Homo sapiens: one gene and its partners. The protein of the gene in region 2 interacts with the protein of the main gene of each other region in a pairwise test. Each region holds a gene or a part of one and is shown on either strand. Other genes may lie near its edges.

Region 1 (7,029 bases), on a different chromosome or scaffold from region 2:
AATGAATGGAACATTAATGTTTACAATAGTATAATTTGCAACACACTTGATGGTTCACAAAACACTCCCATATCTGCTACTCCTTGGTCCTCCCAACAATCCTGGGAGGTGGTCGTTCATCTAATAATATATATATAAGGGCCCACTTATGCCAGGTGCCAAGTACTGGCTGGGCATTTAGCTGTGGCAAACAGAAATGGGCCTTGCCTTCATGAAGCTCACAGACAGAAGCCCCATTTTTTTCACCATCATTTAGTGCCTTTTCGTGATGCTAGTCAATTTAGTGGTACTTTACTTGATCTTCCTTCATTTTATTATAACATTTTTGAGGTATAGTGATCACAATTTGCACATAGCATTTCTGAGTCACATAAACCATAACATAGAATATATATATATTTGCATCTGACATGCTGTGTGAAATTCTAGTTAATTTCTACTATTAACAAGCTTATAGTGACTTCCCTAATTTTGTTAGTCTTCACAGCTATAGCAGCACATTTGTGCATTGTAGATCCTGAAAACCTACAATATGGTTGTCAAAAAGTGAAGCCTGGGCAACACAGTGAGACCTCATCTCTACAAAAAATAAAATTAGCCAGGCCTGGTGGTACATGCCTGTAGTTAGTTGGGAGGCTGAGGTGGAAAGGAGGATCACTCGAGCCCAGGAGCTTGAGGCTGCAATAAGCTGTGATTGCAGCATGGCACTCCAGCTTGGGTGACAGAGTGAGACCCTGTCTCTCAAACAAAACAAAACAAAAACCAGGCTGGGCACGGTGGCTCACTCCTTTAATCCCAGCACTTTGGGAGGCTGAGGTGGGTGGATCACAAGGTCAAGAGATCGAGACCATCCTGGCCAACATGGTGAAACCCCATCTCTACTAAAAATACAAAAATTAGCTGGGTGTGGTTGCGTGCACCTGTAGTCCCAGCTACTTGGGAGGCTGAGGCAGGAGAATCACTTGAACCTGGGAGGTGGAGGTTGCAGTGAGCCGAGATAGCGCCACTGCACTCCAGCCTGGCGACAGAGTGAGACAGGCTCCATCTCAAAAAAAAAAAAAAAAAAAGAAAAAGAAAAACCATTCACTATTCACTTCTTTATTCACCCATCTATCAAACGTCGGTGCTTGCTTTGTGCCAGGCATTATGCTAAGTACTAAAAATATCAAATCTGTAGAATCAAATAATACATAGTCCTCAAGGAGACTCAGAAAAAATAGACTTGGGAACAAATATAGTTCCAGGTAGTGAATGCAATAATAGAAATAAAGTATACCAGGTCTTGGGGTAGCACCTTTTTCTTGGTGGAAAAGGATGGCAAGAGGGGACTTAGCAAGACCTATGAGTCAGGGAGAATGGTGGTGTGTGGGAATCTGGGAGGCTGGGCTAGGGAGAATCAGAAAGGACTAATAGATAAGAGATTATGTCAAAGGAGCAGAATGAGTGAGGTTGAGAAACAAGGAGCACAGGAAGTCAGGAACAGAGAGAGGAATTTCAGAATTCAGGAATTTGGTGGAGGAGTAGGGCTGAGTGATGATGAATTTGTAGTTGGTAGGTAGTGGAGGTGGAGTTGTTAGAACAGATAAAGCCAGGGAACTGTAGGGTAGTGGAGGTGGAATTGTTAGAACAGATGAGGCCAGGGAACTGTAAGGGAACGTGTTAGAAGCATTGTCAAAATGGGTGTGGAGGTCCCAAGGTAGAGGAAAATAGTTCATTTGTATCTTTTCCTCAATTTCTCATCTATCTAAACTTGAGAAAAGCTTCAGGTTTGTCCTCATAACTAAAATATTATATGTGCTAGGAAAAAAGGTATAACTATGAAATAAACTGGTTATCTGAAGACAAATGTCCTATTTTTATCCCTTTCAAAGAGGTAATACAGTTTGTACACAATTACAATCCAATCAAGATTTGTTTGCATGAGCAGTTCCAGTGTTGAAATATCAAAAGCCTTTTATAGTCCTGAGAATAATTATATTGTACACCTTGATTATAAGCAGCAAATTTAATTTTTAATAACAGTCTGAATATAATTGATTAAAACAATGCCAGACAATGTTGCAGTAAAGCTCAATGAGGGTTGCTCTGGACACTGCTGCAAAATAATCTAGAACACTCCCATGCCCTTTTCTGGAATAATGCATCCAGTTCTAGTCCAGGCACCCTGTCAGCAACAGTGCCATGTCCCTCAATCTGAACATGCAGTTTGTACTGCTCCCAAACAAAACAGCCTGACATTTCTCAATTATTTAATGAGCTGGTACACAACTAGCTTTCCTTAAAGAGGTAACTCCCTGAGCAGAGCACAGCGTTTCAGTGTACAGGGTCAGCAGATGCTGACTACAAGTACCTGGAGGTTCTCATCAGGGCTTTTGGGGAATATTAACAAGTCTTCACTGGCTTAGAGTCTGTGCTTGAAGGCAGAAAACTCATGTTTCAAAAGCCAGAGAGTTTTTTGAAAAGACGGACATTTACTAGTTGTGTGACCTCAGCAAGGTATTTATTAGTATCTCTACGTCTAAGTTCTTCGTTTGTAAAACAGGGATCCTACTGGCACCTACTACTGAGCATTAAAGGAGATAGTGTATGTGTGGCACTGGAAACAGTGTTTGGCATTTAGTAAGTACACAATAAATGTTAGTTTTCATGATCGTAATCACATTATCCTCATCAGCCTGGAAACTTTTTCAAAAACTATCTGTATGTAAACTACCTTCCATCCAAATCACCAACCTAATGTTTATTAAGACTGTCCTACTTTACCATTGAATAAGGAATGTGGATGTGTAATTACTACATTTATCCTCAGCAATAGTCATTGCTTTGGAATTGGCAAAACATTCTTTTTGCACATCATCCCTTCCAATTTACATTTTGCAAAACTAGAGCAAAACTTTGTTTAATGTAAATATTTCTTGACATACCAATTCCATACATTGTGCAAATTGTCTTCATTTAAACAAAGTTGGGTTCTGCTATTGCAATTCTCATGTTTTGTTAATTTTATTAAAATGTAAATTTGCCCCTATCAGTCCTGGTTTAGCATTTGCAGTTTATTAACAGAGAAGGAAATAGTTAACATGAGGTTTAGGGAAAAGAATGTAGAATTCCTTACTGAAAGACTATTTCCTACAGTTGACCAATATTTTTCTCATAAAGAGCAGCAGAACCTCCTGGGAAGTCTTGGGAGGAGAGAGGACTCACCTGATTGTGATAAAAACCAGGCACGCCTAGTTTACAAGCCTCCAGGTTGAGAGGTTCTTTAAGATTGTTCATAACACAGCATTGACGAGGCCAGGGATAGTCAGCATCATTATTCTCAGTCCGGAAGGCAGATGTGTATTTTTGCCAGTCTGATGGACCATTTACGCCACAGCAATTGTCCTGTCAGCAGATGAGAGATACAAAATTCTCTTTCGTGGTCCCTACTAGAGCCATCAATGTAGCAACTGAAATTTTATAGAGAAAGAAGATACGGAAAGTGTACCATATCTTACATTTACTAAGAAATCCCCAAATGACAGCTGAAGGTATTGATAACTTACAACTTACATTTTACAGTTTGTAAAAGAATTTTTACACTTCCTACTTTACTAGTCATTAGTGAACCCTGTAGCCATTGACATGTTACTTAAACTGTCTAAGCCTCAGTTTCCTTAACTGTAAAATTGGAATATAGTACCTATCTCATAGAGTTTTTTTAAGGATTAAATGAGTTAATATACTTAATGTGCTCAATACAGTGCCTGGCTTATGGTAAACTCTTAATAAATGTTAATTATGATTGATACTGTACTAATATATTGATATAACAATGTGAGAGAGGAATAATTATTCTGATATATCAGAGCAAATTGAGAATCATAAAATTAAAGATTATATCAAAGCAAATTGAGAATCATAAAATTAAAAATTTTAGTGGTGAAGTTATGAGTAATTGTTCTTGTTTTGCTTTTCTATACATTTAAACATTTTTTAGAGTAATTAGGTATTATTTTTATAATGGGAGAAAATAAAGTGAAAAAAATAACCTGGTGACACAGAGCTATGTCTCCACATAGGGGAGGGAGACCAATTAATACATCCCTTACACTCTGGATAGAATTGAGAATAGAGGACAAAACACAATTCATATAGCTTTCCTTCTTTGTTATCAATTCTCCTAAAATCCTTCAAAAGGGAGGAAGTTAAAACCATGGGTATCTTGGAACTTTTAGAATGAATGTATTCAAGTAAACTTGATGATAAATCAACCATCTTTAAAGGATATACAATTTTGTCACTATGTTATGGGAAATATCTAACCAAGAAAAATAATTATTCTGCATTCTGGGAAAAATGGTTAAGTCTAAGCCAGGCTTATTTCAAACTAGGATTTAGTGGGCACAGAGAAGATTTAAGGGTCCAAAATTGAGCTTTGTAGCACTCCAAGCTTCAGATTTGGGTAAAGAGTGACAACCCAGCAGAGGAGACTAAGCGGGAGTAGTCAGTGAGACAAATGCTGATAAGATGTCAAAGAAGATGAGGACAGAGACTTGGCTATTGGATTTGGCAGGATGGAGGTAATTGGTAATTATGGCAGGGTTGTTTTTGTTGAGTGGTGAGGCAGAGGCCAATTGTAGTTGGATGAAAGCAGATGAGAGGGATGAAAATGGGACCACAAGTGTAGGCATCTCTTCTGAGATTTGCTGTGGAATAAAACAAAACAGTAGTAGGACAGAATAGTGGGTGAATGTTGGACAAGGGAGTCTTTTTATAAGATAGACAATTTAAGGTGTCCATGTAGGCTGTTGAAAGGGAGAAACTGATGAGGCAGATCAGAGCAGGGAAGACTGTTGGGGCAAAGGAGATGGAATGCAGAACAGAATCAAAAGAGCTGGACAAAGGACAGCCTGTGTGACATAACAAGAGAGAAGGCAAAGTGCACAGGTGTATATCAATGTAGATTTGGTGGTAGAAAGATGAGGTGGTTCTTGTCTAATTTCTTCTATATTCTTAAAAACATATGAGGTCGGGTCATCAACTGAGAGGGAGGGTGAGAAGAGGTGTGGCAGGCATGAAGGAAGAACATGTGAAATAGTGACAAGTGAATTTTCTGGGAAAATATACTAGGAAATATTGTGTGCCCATTTGAGCTCTGTGGTCACAAGTTTAAATTGAAATGATCATGGTTGTGTGACTTTTCTCAGCAATGTTTAGCTCTTAGAGTATAAACGAAGAGTGAGCAAAAAGCTATATTCTACTCGGTGGGCTTGGTTAGGAAAGAGTGACCCACAGAGAAGGGTAGGGAAGGACTGGCTATGGGGCTGGACCTGAATATGGGTTAGGCAAAGAGGAAAGAGAAAACATGAAAGGGGTGATAAAAGTTAAAAAGTGGTCAATTAATTGGAGGTCCTAATGGAATAAAATTATTAGAATTGAGATATTAGAATAAATGAAAGAAATGATAGAAATTAATGGTCAGAGAATGGAATGTTCTTAGTGGCACAGTTACTGGTGATGGCATGCTGACTATGGTCATGGAAGAGGGTGGAGGTGGGGAGAAAGACAAAATCTTTGGAATGGGGTAGGACAAGGAATTGTGAGACTAAATGTTGCTGAGTCATCCATGTGGCTGCTGAAGTTTCTAGGTGGGATATCAGGAGTATGACTGAAGAGGTAGATAGTTAAGTGAGATATTGAAATCCCTAATGAAGGCAGGAGAACGACTGAGGGTAGGGAGGCTGGTAAGTAATGGCAAGGAAGGATAAGGGGTGATGTAGATCAAGGAAGCAAATAGTATGGCAGCCAAGGGGAGCAAGAAGGACACCTAGCCAATTTCCAGGTCCTATGGTACATGGATATGGGAGGAAAATGAAGGGCAGGTAGCACTCCCAGGAGATAGCCAAATTTCCAATGAAGCAAGAAAAAGATAGTAAAGAGTTCATAGAAGGAGTGGTGGCTATAAGGGAGTTTGCTGATGACAGACTGTAAAAAGTTGGTGGTGGGGTGTGGAGTAGGAGCAGGGGCCAGTAAGAAAGCTAGGTCAGATTGGTAGTTATGTAGAGGATAACAATTTGCATACAGAGGGCAATGTGGGGGTGATGATGGATATTCTGGAAGACTTGGACTTTTGATGGCACTGGAGATAAACATGGACATAAACTATGATTGCCAGTTGGAGAAAATTGGGTGATCAAATCAAGATATAGGGCCTGGTCCTTGGCAAGACTAGCTCACAGGAGTTGTGAAGAGGTACCCAAAAGGCGAAACAGGCAGTAATTACCACTCGAGTTCACTGTGGGGTAGAGAAAATATTTTTCTTTTAATGTAAATGATACCTGAGTTCTAAGAGGGAGAGTGTATGATTAACCTAAGTTTCTTGACAAAATCATTCCAACAAATGTAAGCTAATCATCATGGCTTGAAATAAAATATAGGGTCCCACTGAGTCATGTGTATGACACCCACTCCCACCAGTAAGTAAAAATGGCATCTCCCCAAGACCACAGGTCTTACCTGGAGCATGAGCCTGTCCCAGGTTTTGGTGACTCCATTGTTTTTCCACTGGTCATCATTGTTTGGAGGGCTGTTGTTTTGGTACCTCTCTAGCATCTGCTTCAGGAAGAGGTTGGGTGTGAACTATAGTAGGAAGAGGCAACACAAGAGGGAGAGATAGCACGCTAATTTTCAAGGAGAGGAAAATATTTTTCTCTGTCTTTTCCTGGGGACACTGAACATTCTCTCCTGGAGCAAAACTGTACTCAGAGGCACCAAGTACAGCTGGCTGAGGTTGGCATAAGTCCCCATGCAGAGAAGAGACTCTCATCTTAAAAGAAATCACTATGAGGCCAGGGGAACACATACTGTAGGGTGGCTTAGGCTAGGAAAACAGAGAATGGGAGAGAAAGAAAGATGTAGAATTGAGAGCACGTCTTAGCTGAGGTAGAACAGAGATCCTCCCATTGGAAGGCCCATGGCCATGGCAGAGTGGTGAAACCCACAGGGGATTACAAACTTGGGCCCTGGGAGTCAGGCCATCTGGGTTCA
Region 2 (7,029 bases):
AGCTCTTTTCAAAGGACCTTTTGGTTTTCCATAAGAAGCATTTAGTTCTTTAATTACACATTAAACTTCTAGCTTAGTGGCTAGAGAGAGCAAAAACTAGCGCAATTAAACATGAGCTAGTTCCAGGTTCACGTTCATCACCTTGATCAGTTGTAAACTGTAGGCTAGAGAAAACTAGCAAGAAAACAGAGGGAGACATCTGGGCCACCTATTTAACTCTCCTCCAAGAGAGCCTAAGAGAGAAGCCATGTGGAGGAGCGAGGCGGGTTTGATGTGTGGCAACCACTGCAGGTCTGGGCTGCTTTGCTGAGCAGAGACTGGCAGCCTGAGCTATGTACATCATCCAACGCCTGAGGGTGCCACTGAAGCAATATTTCAGCGGCTGGGCTGGGAATGCCCATTTCTCTGTAGTTCATTAAGGAGTAATTTTACTGTATCCACTTTCTGAGTTGACCGCTAGATCCTGGCTGGCTGTTGACTCTATTTGCCACTCTGGAGGAATGGCATGAAAAGGAAGGATTCTTCCTTTGAGACCCTAACTGAATGACTGGGCTCTCTAAGTCTTGTGAAGCAGTTGTCTCTTTGACAACCGAAAAAAAAGAGTTATGTTATTTTGAACAGACTTATGAGTGACTTCAATAATTTATGCTAGAAAAAAAGTCATTCTTCTATATTGCCTAGGACTCTCTTAAGAGTACAGTACAATATTTCATAGTACTTAGTACTCTTACATACTATTATTAATAGTACTATTACTAGTACTTAATAGTACCAATAGTACTTAACAGTACAGTACAGGGGTCAGCAAACTTTTTTTATACAGGGCCAGATAGTAAATATTTCAATCTTTGCTGGCCACACGGTCTCTGTTGTAATTACTCAGCTCTGTGAGTGCATGTGGAAGCAGCCATAGGCAATACACAGACAAATGGCTGTGGCTGTGTTCCAATAAAACTTTGTTTGTGGACATTGAAATTTGAATTTAGGATGATTTTCACATGTCTCAAAATATTCTTCTTTTCTTTTTTTTCCCCCAATTATTAAAAAATGTAAAAATTGCTCTTAGCTCACAAGTGGTACAATAACAGGCAGCAGGCCAGATTTTTTTTTTTTTAGCAGATTTGGTTTGCTGAAATTTTTTGTAGTAAAAATAGCCCACAGCTTAGGGCCCTGTGACCTGGATTTGAGACAAGGAGCTATGATTCACTGGCCTTTAAACTTGGCCAATTTGCCCAAACCCTAGTTTTCCCTCTATAAAATGTAAATTATAATACTCAACCTCTCATGGTGAATTAGAATGAAATAAGATAATTTGTACAAGTGCTCTTAATGCTCTCAAACACCACACCATGTTGGGTAAAATATTGTTGGGTTATTATTATATATTCTGTGATTTATCAAAATCTCTTAGCAGCCTTCTGACAGAATTTTGACTTCTAGATGACACTCTGCATCTAAAGCACTCAAGACATTAAAGGCAGAAATATTAGGAAGAGGCGTGCTTTACTCAATTTTAAATTAAAGGCTAACATTTTCTTAGATACCGGTTGGCCATAAAGTTCAGAAACAAGATAATGTTATTTTAGTGTATTGTAAAGTAATATCAATGAATCATCTATTATGTATATGTTACCTATGTTTTTCAATGTTAAAGCCATCCATTGAAAGGAAATCATCCTTGAAGATAATGTTTACAATATATAGAGGACACTGAACTTTCAACTACCTTCCTGACATTTTTAAATCATACAGAGTATCACCCAAGTCAAGGAAAGAAAGACTGAAGAGTAGCCAGACTATTAGCAAACTGTTTTGGAAATGATTTACTATGAGTATTTTAATTGTATTCTCTCAGCAAATCAAATGATTTCCCATTCTTCTGGTGAGTTCAGGTAGTTTTCTAATAGCATTCTTATGCCCCCTTTCTCTGTCCACCAGTTCCCACCTTTGTAAGCAGTTTCTAAATATCCCAAAGACACTGGCTTAAATCTAAATAAAAAAGCAAAGGGGAAAAAAGTAAGAAAACTGAAATGTAAGAAAATGTAGGGATGGAAAGCATAAGAATGTTGCTCTGGAGAATTCAAAATTTAGACTATTAAATGAAGTCATGAATAATTTTTAAATTGGAGTGCAGTGAAAAATAGACATTTCAGAGCCCTAGCTTGGTTAGACCTGCAAGAGAAAATTGTGCTTAAGAAATAGGTTGACATTTGCAGCTGGATTTCTGTTAGGGAACATAAGGTACTGAACTAAAACAATAGAATTGGAACTGGAGAACCAGGGAAACAGCAAAGGATGGGGATAGATGGAAGAACGGAGTGGGGGAAGAGAGAGTTCTGCCTCATGGACATAGAGGGGATATATGCTGGAACAACCAGGCTGGAAGGCCATGTTTGAAGGAACAGAAAAGTTGACATTTGCTATGTTAATGTAAAAGAGTATAGCTTACCCAGGGGACAGCTAAAACAGAAATGATTTTATTGGTTCCATAAAGTTGATTTATAAATGAATGGGTGCTCTTCCAGTTGGAGAGCACGTTGGGGTGGGTGGAGGTGAGAATCCGAGGAACTCAGCAGCCTTGTGGTGGGGGGTCATGCTTGCAGCTGAACCTGCCCTTCCATCCAGGAGCACTTTGTTCTGTCAAATTGGGGTCAACTGTGGCAAACCATAACCCTTAAATTCCAAATTCTTATCTGGCTCACGGATCCCACCATGCTTTATGGAAAAATGACTCAAATACATTAACCAAACAGACCAAAGGATCTAGTTGAGAGTGATCTTCATTAGTTATGGATACTGTTGTATTAAAAGAGACTTTTAAAAAATTCTCATTGCACTTGGTTTGCTAATGGAGTGACTGAGGGAATGAGGACTGGATATTGCGGAATAGAATGAGTGGAAATTGTGGGGTCAATTTTGTTGAGCTGTCTTAATGGAAAACACCATTCACTCACTACTCGCTGCTTAGAAAATCAGTCTCAATGAACTTTCAGTTCCAAATTTTAACAGTTGACACAAAATACACTGTTAAACTGTGTTAACAACTGTAGAAAAATAGACATGTTTGATAGGGACATTCTAGTAAAAGGTTCTTCAGGAGCATCCCCATGTAAAGATTCAGAGGCTCACATTACAAAAACGAGATTTGGTTCAAGTTCTGTCTCCAACTACATTGACAACAAAGACAGTGAGAAACAGGGAGAGACCTCACATCTGGGTGCCCGTCACAGACACAGAACTGACAGGTGCACGTGGCCAACGTGTTGTCAAGGCTCTTCGTTCAGTTGTGCTAAAGGGCAGGCAAGCAGGGATGAGGCCCTGAGCTGCTTGCTCTTCCAACCAGACACGGGGGTGTGCGCTGTCCTTTAAACCTTAGCAATGGAATTAAAAAGGCCCAGTGAGTCTTCAAGAGCTAAATTAGAAGACATTTTGCCGCCCCTATTCCATCTTGTTTTGTGCCTGCCATGGCCTGCCCTGCGACCCTGGCAAGGTTGCAGGGGAGCTCCCCAAGCCAAGAGTGCCCTTCATTAGGCTGCAGAGAGGTCAAGCCATGGCTCCTCCCCGCAGCCTCAAGGGGAGTGTATCGAGCTTCCTCCTCCCGGACCACCACCTCCTTCTTAGAGTGTGCGAAATAAAGAAATGATTCAACAGAGATTCAATGCAAAAAAGGAAATGCTGGCAAACAGGAAAGGGCTATAGCCAACAGTTTTGTTTTCCTTAAAGTCAGTGCCAAGAGGCAGTTGTCCTGATCCAAGGTCTCTGAGATGGGAGAAGAGAGGCCCCGAGGTTATATTTAGGAGCCACTTTCCTTATCCTGGGACTTCTTTTTTAGTAGACAAGGTCCCCAGACTACACCAAAGGCCTGTGCGATCAGGTCAGGGAAGGCAAGGGAAACAAAGAGGGACAGCTAGTTTGATCTCTTTGACCTCCATGGTGCAGAGCCTCAAACTGAGCACAGCTGTAGGAGCTGAAAATAAACTTGGATCCATTCAATGAATATTTATGATGGGCAACTGTGTTAAAGAACAAACAGCTTATAAATGCAAAGTGAATGTGAAAGATCTGTAACAGTGCAAAATCTCCACCTGCCCCGGAGGTTTGATCTAAGATTTGTTTCCTTATTTTTTTCATTTTAAAATTCAGATTTCCAGTACAAATACCCTTCCTTCCTTCCTTCCTTCCTCCCTCCCTTCCTCCCTTCTTTCCTTTTTGCAGATTAAAGTGAATTAAGGCTGGAATTTTTTTATTTGTTTTCTTTTGATTGACAGACACTGGATTTGATTTCTAGCCTGTGGCATACTCTAGAGACATTTCTTAGACAATCATCAAGATTGTTGATCTAATCTTTGAATACTGAACTCTGGTCATTTCAAAATAATAAAAGATCACAATGCAAGAAATGCTGATGGATAAGCCCCAGGGACAGGCGAGATGTCATTCTCAGAAAGCCAGATAGAGTCAAAGTGAGAGGTCGATGATTATAATGCATGCCACTCACTACATGCCTTTGTGAATTTCACGGCTTTAGACCCAAACCATCTTCTGCTAACTTACCATGTCTCATTGTAAGAGTGTAGAGAAACTACAGCTGGAGAATCAATGGTTTTGCAGAAAAGTTTCCTAAATTATTGTACTACAAAGGGCAAGAGCTCATGTGAAAAGTAAAAACATACCTTTGGTGACAGGCTAGAGAATATTTCCTTCCTGGTATTCCCCCTCCTCCAGGCCAGTTAGTGAGGCCCTTGTTATCTTTTAAAAAAAGACATCTGTTTTGTAACATTTCACAGTATATCAGCATATTGGTGGTGGGTTTTGCCATCTACCAGACCTCTCAATTTCCCCCAGACCTATGGCTTGTTGGATTCAATGAAAGGATCCGTGTGGGAACAGTGAGGTACCCTAACGTCTGCCAGTCTGAGACACAAACAAAGGCCATGCACTGAAGGGCCAGCCGTCAACTGGATCAAAATAACCTGGAAAACACAGACATCAAAACAGAAATGCCTACTGCATGTTAGGAATCTTTCTTTCTTTCTTTTTTTTTTTGCTTCTTATTTCTAAAGTTATATATCTAAACCTACATTAATGATACATCTATGTACAGTATTTAGCAGTTCTGTTCTATGGTACTTTTGTACATGCTGGGTTTTATTACTAATTACAAAAAGAAAATAATTACATAAGGCATATATATGTACAGTGGTTTGTCTTCAGCTCACCTGGGCCCTGTAACTGCCACACCCACATGGGGGCAAGCACCTCACCCTGTAGTAGATGAAATGAATTGGGATCCATAAAACTGAGGGCTCCACTCTGTGTCTCACTGAATGAATAAATAGGCACCAGAAACCTTGCTTGTCATATCCCAGGTAAAATCTTTGACACACCTTTTTGAGTGATCTGGTATTGTACAACACATGCAGGTAAGTAACTGAAATCTCCAGGAGTTGGATGTGTAGTATTTTGGGAGGAGACCAGGCTTGGGCCACAAATGAGGGCACTTTGCACTTTCATCAAATCCATGTCTACCTTGTCAATCTGAATAACTGAGAGAGGGCAGGTAGATATTTTACACCTTGAAGATTTGTTTTCTGGTCATGTAAAAATTAAATATAAACAAATAAAGAACAAAGCAAGAGAGACAGAAAAAGAAAGAGAATGAGAGACAAGGAAAGATTGTGTTGGGGGGAGAAGAGAAGGGTTTGCCCAGCTAGGGCACTAAACTTTGGATTCATTCTCCAGGTTTGCCACATCACCATTTCTTTCTGTTTGCTCTTCGAGGTTCTTTTCTTCCTCTTCAGTCTCCAGTTCTGCATGTTGGTTGAGTTTGCTGGATACAGACCAACTCAGGGGCAGCTCTGCCCTGCTGGCTAACTCGGCCAGCTCTTTGGCACTAAGGGATGGGGTGCTGGTCTCATAGGTCTCATGGAAGCTGTTGTAGTCAACTTCGTAGAACCCGTCCTCCAGGGTCAGGACAGGTGTGAACCGGTAACCCCACAGGATCTCACTGGTGATGTAGGAGCTTCGAGCTTGGCATGTCATCCCTGCAGAGAGAAGAATGGAGGCTTTAGCATATGTAAGTGTGGGCTTTCCATGGCCAAGGAGTCACAGAGAGCCAGGAGGAGTACTGCATGCAGCTGTTGAGACTGACCTGCATACGATGCCACACTTAGTAGGTGTCATTCATGTTGTAGACACATGCTAATGTGCCATGGAGATTCCAGGCCTCTTAAGGGAGTCCTGGGGAACAATGAGAGAGTCCTGGCCCACATCAAGCCACATTTGCCTGCATGGCCATGCACATGCAAAGGAAATCAAGTGTGCAAATGCACACAAGTTTTCGCATGTGCATGGCTATGTCTGGTCCACTCTGCTCTGGGAGAACCCTGAAGCCATGACTCTGGCCTCCTACTGCTCTTGGAGGTTTAGCCTGGGTTCTAATGGGATTTGAGCTCTTTGGCCACAGACTTAGAATGAAATTTCATATATGGAACTACACTTAGGCTGCTTTTAAGCTAGAGGCCACAGATCAGTGTTACCCTCCCACCTGCCATTAACACACAGGCCATGACTGTGGCTCCAGATGCAGTTGGAAGGGTCACCCACCTGAATTTGCACTTTACTTAGGCCCAGTGGTCATAGTTGCTCAGACTGTGCAATCATAACTACTTTAAAAGCTTTTCCCCCTTCTTTTTTTTTTTTTTCTTTGAGATGGAGTCTCGCTGTGTCGCCCAGGCTGGAGTGCAGTGGTGCGATCTCGGCTCACTGCGACCTCCACCTTCAGGATTCAAGCAATTCTCCTGTCTCAGACTTCTGAGCAGCTGGGACTACAGGTGCACACCGCCATGTCCGACTAATTTTTTTTTGTATTTTAGTAGAGACGGAGTTTCATCGTGTTGCCCAGGCTGTTTATGAACTCCTGAGCTCAGGCAATCCGCCTGCCTCAGCCTCCCAAAGTGTTGGGATTACAGGCGTGAGCCACTGCTCCTGGCCACTTTTCCCTTTTCTTAAAGATAAGAAGCCTTTTTG
Region 3 (7,029 bases), on a different chromosome or scaffold from region 2:
GTCCACTGAGCTCCACGGTGAGCTTGTTCCCAAAAGGCTGGGGAAAAGGGACCCCAACAGAGAATATTGGGAAGAGGAGACCAAAGGAAGAATCCTTTCCCTCACACTGGGTGGGTCACCACAATAACACCCTAAAGCCAAAGCCTTCTCTCTTCTACCAATCTAGTCAGAGAGTCACTAGCTGGTGTTTTTCATTACCTTTTAGTCCCAGAGTCCCAGATGAATGTGTACAATCAGGAAAGAGGGGTTTAGCCAGCTGGGTTGAAAACCTAATGTTTAACATTCTTACTATGTTACCATACTTCCTCTAAACCACTCCTTCAGGATCTTGGAGTAATCCACCAAAACACATTCACTGATATACTAGTGAACAAATTTCAAAGTTTACATCTCTTTCCCCATTTGATCCCACAGTGAGATGGGCAGTTCAGCATTCTCCATTTTACAGAGAAGAAATGTAGAAATTGGGGACTGATTCACCCTGACCAGCCCTCATCCTTCTGGCCCAGGGATTTTTTTGTTTTTTTTTTTTTTAAACAATACTGACCACTGGAGCCTCTTTTTGGAAGCAGTCTCTGCCACCTGACCCCCAGAGAAATGTAAGACGTAGATTTGTTCTCCATAATGACATTAATGCCTTTTGCAAACATTTACTGAATCTAGAAGAAATATAATTGCAGAAAGTAAAAAGTTTCCTCTTCAAAGTTTCCCTTCTTGTTAAATAATAAATCATAAATGTTAGAAATAATAGTTTCTTTTAAAATTTTTCTTCAAGCCTCCTTGCTTTGTGCTAATAACTCTTTGTTAAGCATGTAGCTGTTGGACATGCTCACAGGCATGTTCCAGCTCACAGCCTATGCCCCTTTCTTATTTGGAAATGTTATTACTTCTTTAAATTTTTCAAAAGCAACTTCCTCTTTTCCTTTGTTCTCCCTTGCCTTTACCTATCTAAAAAAGTTTTAGGCTCTTAGCAAATCGGGTATCAGTTTAGACTGTGAGGTTCGGCTCCAGCCAGTGGATGCAGGACACAGCAGTGAGGACAACCCAAATGTGTAAGGGATAAATATGTCTGCTTTTCCTTTGTTTGGTGTACTCTCGTGGCAAGACTGCTGGTGAGTATACCCTTTCCGCAGAAAGTAAAAATTGCCTTGCTGAGAGAATTAAATTTATGTTCAAGCGCTATTTCTTTGTGGCACCGGGGAACAAGCATTTTGCATTTCTAACATAATGATTGTGGTAAATGTCAATAAAAATCTTGAAGCACATCTCTCCTTAGAGTTTTTGGTAAGAGTTTATGGAGGAAAATCTATATAATCAAATGAAAATATCACAGTAAAACTCTAAATGCATCATAGAAATTAGCAACCATTAGTCAGTTTGCCTGTTTCAGAGAAAGCTCAGAAGAAACTCAGTTTACCTCTACAATGTTAAATGATGTTAACACCTTCTCCTAAAGCATTTTACTTTCCCCATCAACAAAACAGAGTATATCAGCTGAAATAGGCCACAGACCTCATTGTCTGTCTGTACGAAACTGGGGCAAAAATGAACTCAGAAAGACAAGTAATAACCTGGTAGCAATCCATGGAAAGTTAACCTTGCTGACATTCCTCTTCACTTCCCTCTGTTGGATGTTCCTGGAATTTGCATTTGTGGAAAGTTGCATACTTGCAGTGAACAAGTTCCACTGGTCCTGTTGTAGTGGATTCCACCTAACCTTTTATTCCTCTCATCCCTGTCCAGCTAACGTTCTCTCACTGTTCAGCATATGTACGTCAAAGACAGAAGTGCATGAAGACATGTGTAAAGATGCAAAATTCCCCCAGGAAACTCATTATCTAGAGCAGCCAGGGCCAATCCTCTCCTCCTCCCAGGGATTCCTAGCAATATCTGGAGACATCTGCATCAGTCATGACTTGGGGGAGGGGGGTACTATTGGCATCTACCGGGCAGAGGCCAGGAATGCTGCTGCACACGCTACAATGCACAGGCCAGCTCTCCACAACAGAGAAGTATCCGGTCCAAAATGTCAGTGGTGCTAAGGTTGAGAAATCCTGACCTAGAGGGTGAGATGAGACATATAATACAGGGTTAAGTGTGGCAGAGCTGTAATAGAGCTAAAACTGGAGTGCTATCAGATTGATAACATTTAAACAAGCGGCTATTACTTGCCAACAAGTGTTGGCAAGAATGTGGGGAAAATAGTACCCTCATAACATGTTGGTGAGAATGTAAACTGATAGAACTTTGGGGGAAGGCAATTTGGCAATATCTAATGAGACTTTAAAATATATACACTATTCCTCTTTGCTTTCCTTCCATTCCTATTTTCTTTCTTCCTTTCCCTTCTCTTTTCTTCCTTCCCCAGAACACAGCAATCAGCATGTAGCTGGGAATGCAACGTGAGGCTGGGGAGTTTGGGGAGGTACATAGAGACATGAGCTATGGCTGGGAAGAGCTGTGAGCTAGAGGGACTGGAGACTGATGATTAAGCTACATAGAGACACAGGCTAGCAGGCCTGGCAGCCGAGGACAAGAGGCAGTGGCAAAGGTGGTGGACACAGAGGAGGCAGGATGACCTTCACATTTGTAAGACTGGTTACTGTATGCAAATAAGCAAAAATATTGAAGATAATGAGAGTCAGGTTTTCTAACTGCCAGAGAAGATATGTACAAACATATAAAGGGGGAAGAACAGAAAGCTCTTTGGGTGTTAGATTGAAATTGTAGGTATAAGTATGAATCATGATTTTATAATACACAGCCTAATATAGAAAAATTTATAAATGTGTGTACACATATACACATATATTTCCTAGCTCTGTCCTCTGAGAGATCTAGAAGCAATAATACCCCAGTAACAATGGGCACATCAACCTCCTATGTATTGGTGTCTAAATACAATTCTCATATTGCATATTAGATCTCAAGACTTATTCATCCTACATAACTGCAACTTCGTACCTTTTAATCTACATCTTCTGTTTTTCCCTGTTTCCACTAATGTACAACACAAGGACTACAGTTACTAATACTGTATTGAGGCTGAGCATGGTAGCTCATACCTGTAATCCCAGCACCTGGGATGCCAAGGCAGGAGGATGATTCAAGGCTGGAGTTGGAGGCCAGCCTGGGCAACACAGCAAGACCCCTCCTCTAAAAAATATTTTTTAAATTAGCCGGGAATGGTGGTGAGCACCTGGAGTCCTAGCTACTTGGGAGGCTGAGATAGGAGGACTGCTCAAACCTAGGAGTTAGAGGCTGCAGTGAACTATGATCACGCCACTGCACTCCAGCCTGTAGTACAGAGCAAGACCCTGTCTCTAAAAAAATTAAAATTAATAAATATTGTATTCTGCTAATTTGCCAAGAGAGTAGATTTTAGGTACTCTTATCACAAACACAAGAAAGGTAACTATGATGGGCATGTCAATTTGCTTGACTGTAGTAATTACTTCATTACATCTATGTTTATCAAGATAAATACATGAAAATATCATGTTGTATGCCTTAAATATATAAAATATAAATAAGACAAAAGTACCATTCTCTACTAAAAGGGAGGCCTAACTAGGTCAAGGAAAGTAGAAGATGAGTCCAGATGATCTGGTGGAGCCAGAAAATAAAGAAATGCTCAATGAATAATAGGGATGTGTTAAAAGGACACAGGAGGCAGCTCCAAGGGGTCCCCATTGGCCAAATTGAGCACAATTTGAGCATTAAAATAAAAAACAATCGTGAGACTTCAACTTATTGAATACATAAGGAATCCATGAACAGTTCTTAGTAAAAACATAACAGAAAAATAAAGTTCTTCCTTATAGTAGTATGCCAACTAACAAATGTAGAAAGAGTGACGGTGATAAAGAATCATCACTTGAGGCTGGGTGCAGGGGCTCATGCCTGTAATCCCAGCACTTTGGGAGGCCAAGGCAGGTGGATCACTTGAGCTCAGGATTTCGAGACCAGCTTGGGCACCATGGTGAAACCAACTCCATCTCTACAAAAAATACAAAAAAAAAAAAATAAGCCAGGTGTGGTAGTGTGCACTTGTAGTTCCAGCAACTTGGGGGGCTGAGGCAGGAGGATCACTTGAGCCCAGGAGGTTGGGGCTGCAGTGAGCCAAGATCATGCCACTGCACTCCAGCATGGCAACAGAGTGAGACCTTGTCTTAAAAAAAAAAAAAAAGAATCACCATTTGGCAACATTCATAGAGGTGGCTGATTCAGGCAGACGTCATCAATAAATGGTAGTTTCTGTAGGTACAGGTTTAATGAGGAACAGGCTATTTGCATAACCCTAGAATAGTTCCCCACAAACACTAGTACAAAGGTGTTTTCAAACACCTTTGGGGAAACAAAGGGAAACGAAGGAAAAATGGCGAATTTAAGGTGAAGAAATCTGGCAAACACCAACATAACCAGGTGATTGAGGTCAATATCCCAGCAGTGGGATGGGTTGGCACCATGTGCCTTCTGTTGTAAGAAGCTAAGAAGAGCTGAGTTTCATTTCTGAAGGATTCCTGCCAAGAATGCATGACCTCAGTCAGGCTGTGAAGAAATACCCAATACAGCCAGGTTGGGAGTCATCCTACAGCATGTAGGACCTATACAACTGCAAACACTTTAGGAACAGGGAAAGTCTGAGGAACCGTTCCAGAAGAGACATGGTAACTAAATGTAACATGAATCCTAGATCAGACAGGTAGAAGAGACATTTGGGGGATAACTGACGAAATAGGAATGGGCTCTGTGGATTGGATGATAGTGTTTTGTATCAATGTCCATTTCCTGATTTGATGGGTGTACGCTGGTTATATAGGAGGACAGAGTGCTTGCTTTTTTTTTTATGCTGGAGTGTTTTCAAGAGTGATGGAGAATAATGTCTATGACTTCCTCTCAGAATAAAGACTGATGATGTATATTTTATATATATATATATACATACATACACACACACACACACACACACACACACAGAGAGAGGCAGAGACAGAGAGAAGGAGGGAGGGAGAGAGAGGGAGAGATTGAGATTTCAAACCTAATGCCATGGAGACATAGAAAAAGATTATACTACTTATTTTCTCTTCACCAGACCCATGTGATAGTTTTTGTCCAGAGAAAGGCCTTCCTTACCCCCATTCGACGAACTGACTTACTAAAAATCAAACAGGGCAGGAGGTAAATGATTCACTGATGTGCTCCCAATAAATTCTATACTTGATCCCTTGCTTTGGTTTTCTATAACTAGTCACTGCCAATGGCTTTGAGTCTTAACTCTGGCTTTCTACCTCCTTAGGGAGTGAATGCTGCTGATAGACTCCGCTGCCTATCTTTGAATTACATGGTCTGAGTCTGTCTGGGGGCAGCTCCAGAATTTCTACAGAGGATGTGCTTCGGGATAGCTTGGCTTAAAAGGGGAGACCAGGGGCTTGCCTTAAAGCTGCATTTATAAAGCAAATACACTGCTTTTATTTAGACCGCATGTTTGCTTGGAAGGCCTTTGGACCAAATAGTGCACTTATGGAGGGGCTAATGTGCCCTCCAACCCAGCCCTGCCACCTGCCAAGCCATCCCTTGATAACTGGTCAATCTGCACATGGGTGAGTCAAGGCCAGGGCTAGTAGAAGCTCCAGCTTAATGTCCCAGGGAACAATGTAGACACAGGACTAGCTGATGAGTAATTAGAGGGGTTGATGAACATCCTCAGGAAGGGGTGGGGCAGGCTGTGCTGGGCAGGTTGCTTTCCACAGTGACACCCAGTCTGGCCCAGCCTGAGGTGTACAAATGATTCACATCTGAAGAGGGGTGACAGAATCATGGGAGTAGGGCAGTATCAGGGGTCATGGGCAAGGGAGGAGTTCAAGGTTGTAGATACACAGGACAAGAGGCCAGCCAAGGAAGAGGAATAAAGAGGAGGACATAAGACTGGGGGTGATGAAGAGAGGGGTGGGTATAACCCAGGATGTCAGAACCTTCCCCTCAATGGTACTAAATCCCCTCCCCCACCCTCCAGCTGGCTTGCCAGGACAGGTAGAGAGCAACAAATATCTTTCAGACTGAATTAAGTAATTAGCTTAATTTGGGGGTGGGGGAGCAATGCCTTTGGTCAGTTTAGAACTTTGCAGAGTAAACTAGAGACCCAAGTCAGCAAGAAGGCACAGGGGAGTGAGGATGGTATAGGTGGACCCAATACATTGTCCAACATTGCCATCAGCACCCTCCTCCTGACCTGTGGGATGGGTGGTGGCCAGCTGTTTGTGTTTGTCCACTAAGAACTGAGATGCGCAGACAGTACAGGTAATTCCAACACGAAATTAAAGCTTCTTTGGAACTTTGCCCTATGCCTTCGATCATGTAGTGTTGGGTAACCTCAGTCCTGAAATTTAACTTCCTCTCATATTCCCCACAGAGCAGTTTCTCAACCTTTGATGCTATTTCCTCCTCGAAGTCCAGTATGATGTCAGAGGACGGGAGAGAGGAATATGGAAGAACTGCAGCAGTGCCCCCTTAGCACTCAAAACATGCTTGTGGAGATACTGCCAACCCCCAATAGCCAGAGCTGAGTGGGCCTGCCTGGGGTGGCCCACATCTGGATGTCCTGCCTCTTTAATTCCAATGTTTATGCACTCTTCACAGGGTACAAAGCTCTTTCACGTACATAAGTTAATGGAACTCATTAACAATCCATGTAGACAGGTAGAAAAGTAATTATTATCCCCACTATATAAATGAAAAAAACTTAAACATGACAATCTATTCAGGGTCACAAGAACTCACAAAAGTGGGACTAGGATTCAAAGACAGAACCCTGTGCTCCAAGTACCTCTAGTCCACCGTTTGTAAAAGCACAAAGTCTCTGCACTTATGCAGATAGCTCCCCAGCCCCATCACCACCTCTGCCATCCACAGCAGGACTGAGTTCCAGGTGACTCCTCCACAAATACAGAATCCAGGATGAGGAACAAAGGATCATCAAGGCCGGAAAGGGGGAGGCTCAGTACCTGCAGGAGGAATGACGAAGGGAGG

Evidence for each region.
Region 1: the proteins of KCNJ6 (region 2) and UPK1B interact in binary tests that used the Homo sapiens proteins (3 or more experiments, as listed by UniProt).
Region 3: the proteins of KCNJ6 (region 2) and LPAR3 interact in binary tests that used the Homo sapiens proteins (3 or more experiments, as listed by UniProt).

The regions. Positions count from the first base shown.
Region 1 is NC_000003.12:119,190,574-119,197,602, reverse strand, and holds part of UPK1B (uroplakin-1b), read right to left. Parts: intron 6,622-7,029; coding exon 6,499-6,621; intron 3,385-6,498; coding exon 3,205-3,384; intron 1-3,204. UniProt on the Homo sapiens protein: Component of the asymmetric unit membrane (AUM); a highly specialized biomembrane elaborated by terminally differentiated urothelial cells.
Region 2 is NC_000021.9:37,619,441-37,626,469, forward strand, and holds part of KCNJ6 (G protein-activated inward rectifier potassium channel 2), read right to left. Parts: intron 6,045-7,029; coding exon 5,719-6,044; 3' UTR 1-5,718. UniProt on the Homo sapiens protein: Inward rectifier potassium channels are characterized by a greater tendency to allow potassium to flow into the cell rather than out of it.
Region 3 is NC_000001.11:84,883,202-84,890,230, forward strand, and holds part of LPAR3 (lysophosphatidic acid receptor 3), read right to left. Parts: intron 1-7,029. UniProt on the Homo sapiens protein: Receptor for lysophosphatidic acid (LPA), a mediator of diverse cellular activities. May play a role in the development of ovarian cancer. Seems to be coupled to the G(i)/G(o) and G(q) families of heteromeric G proteins.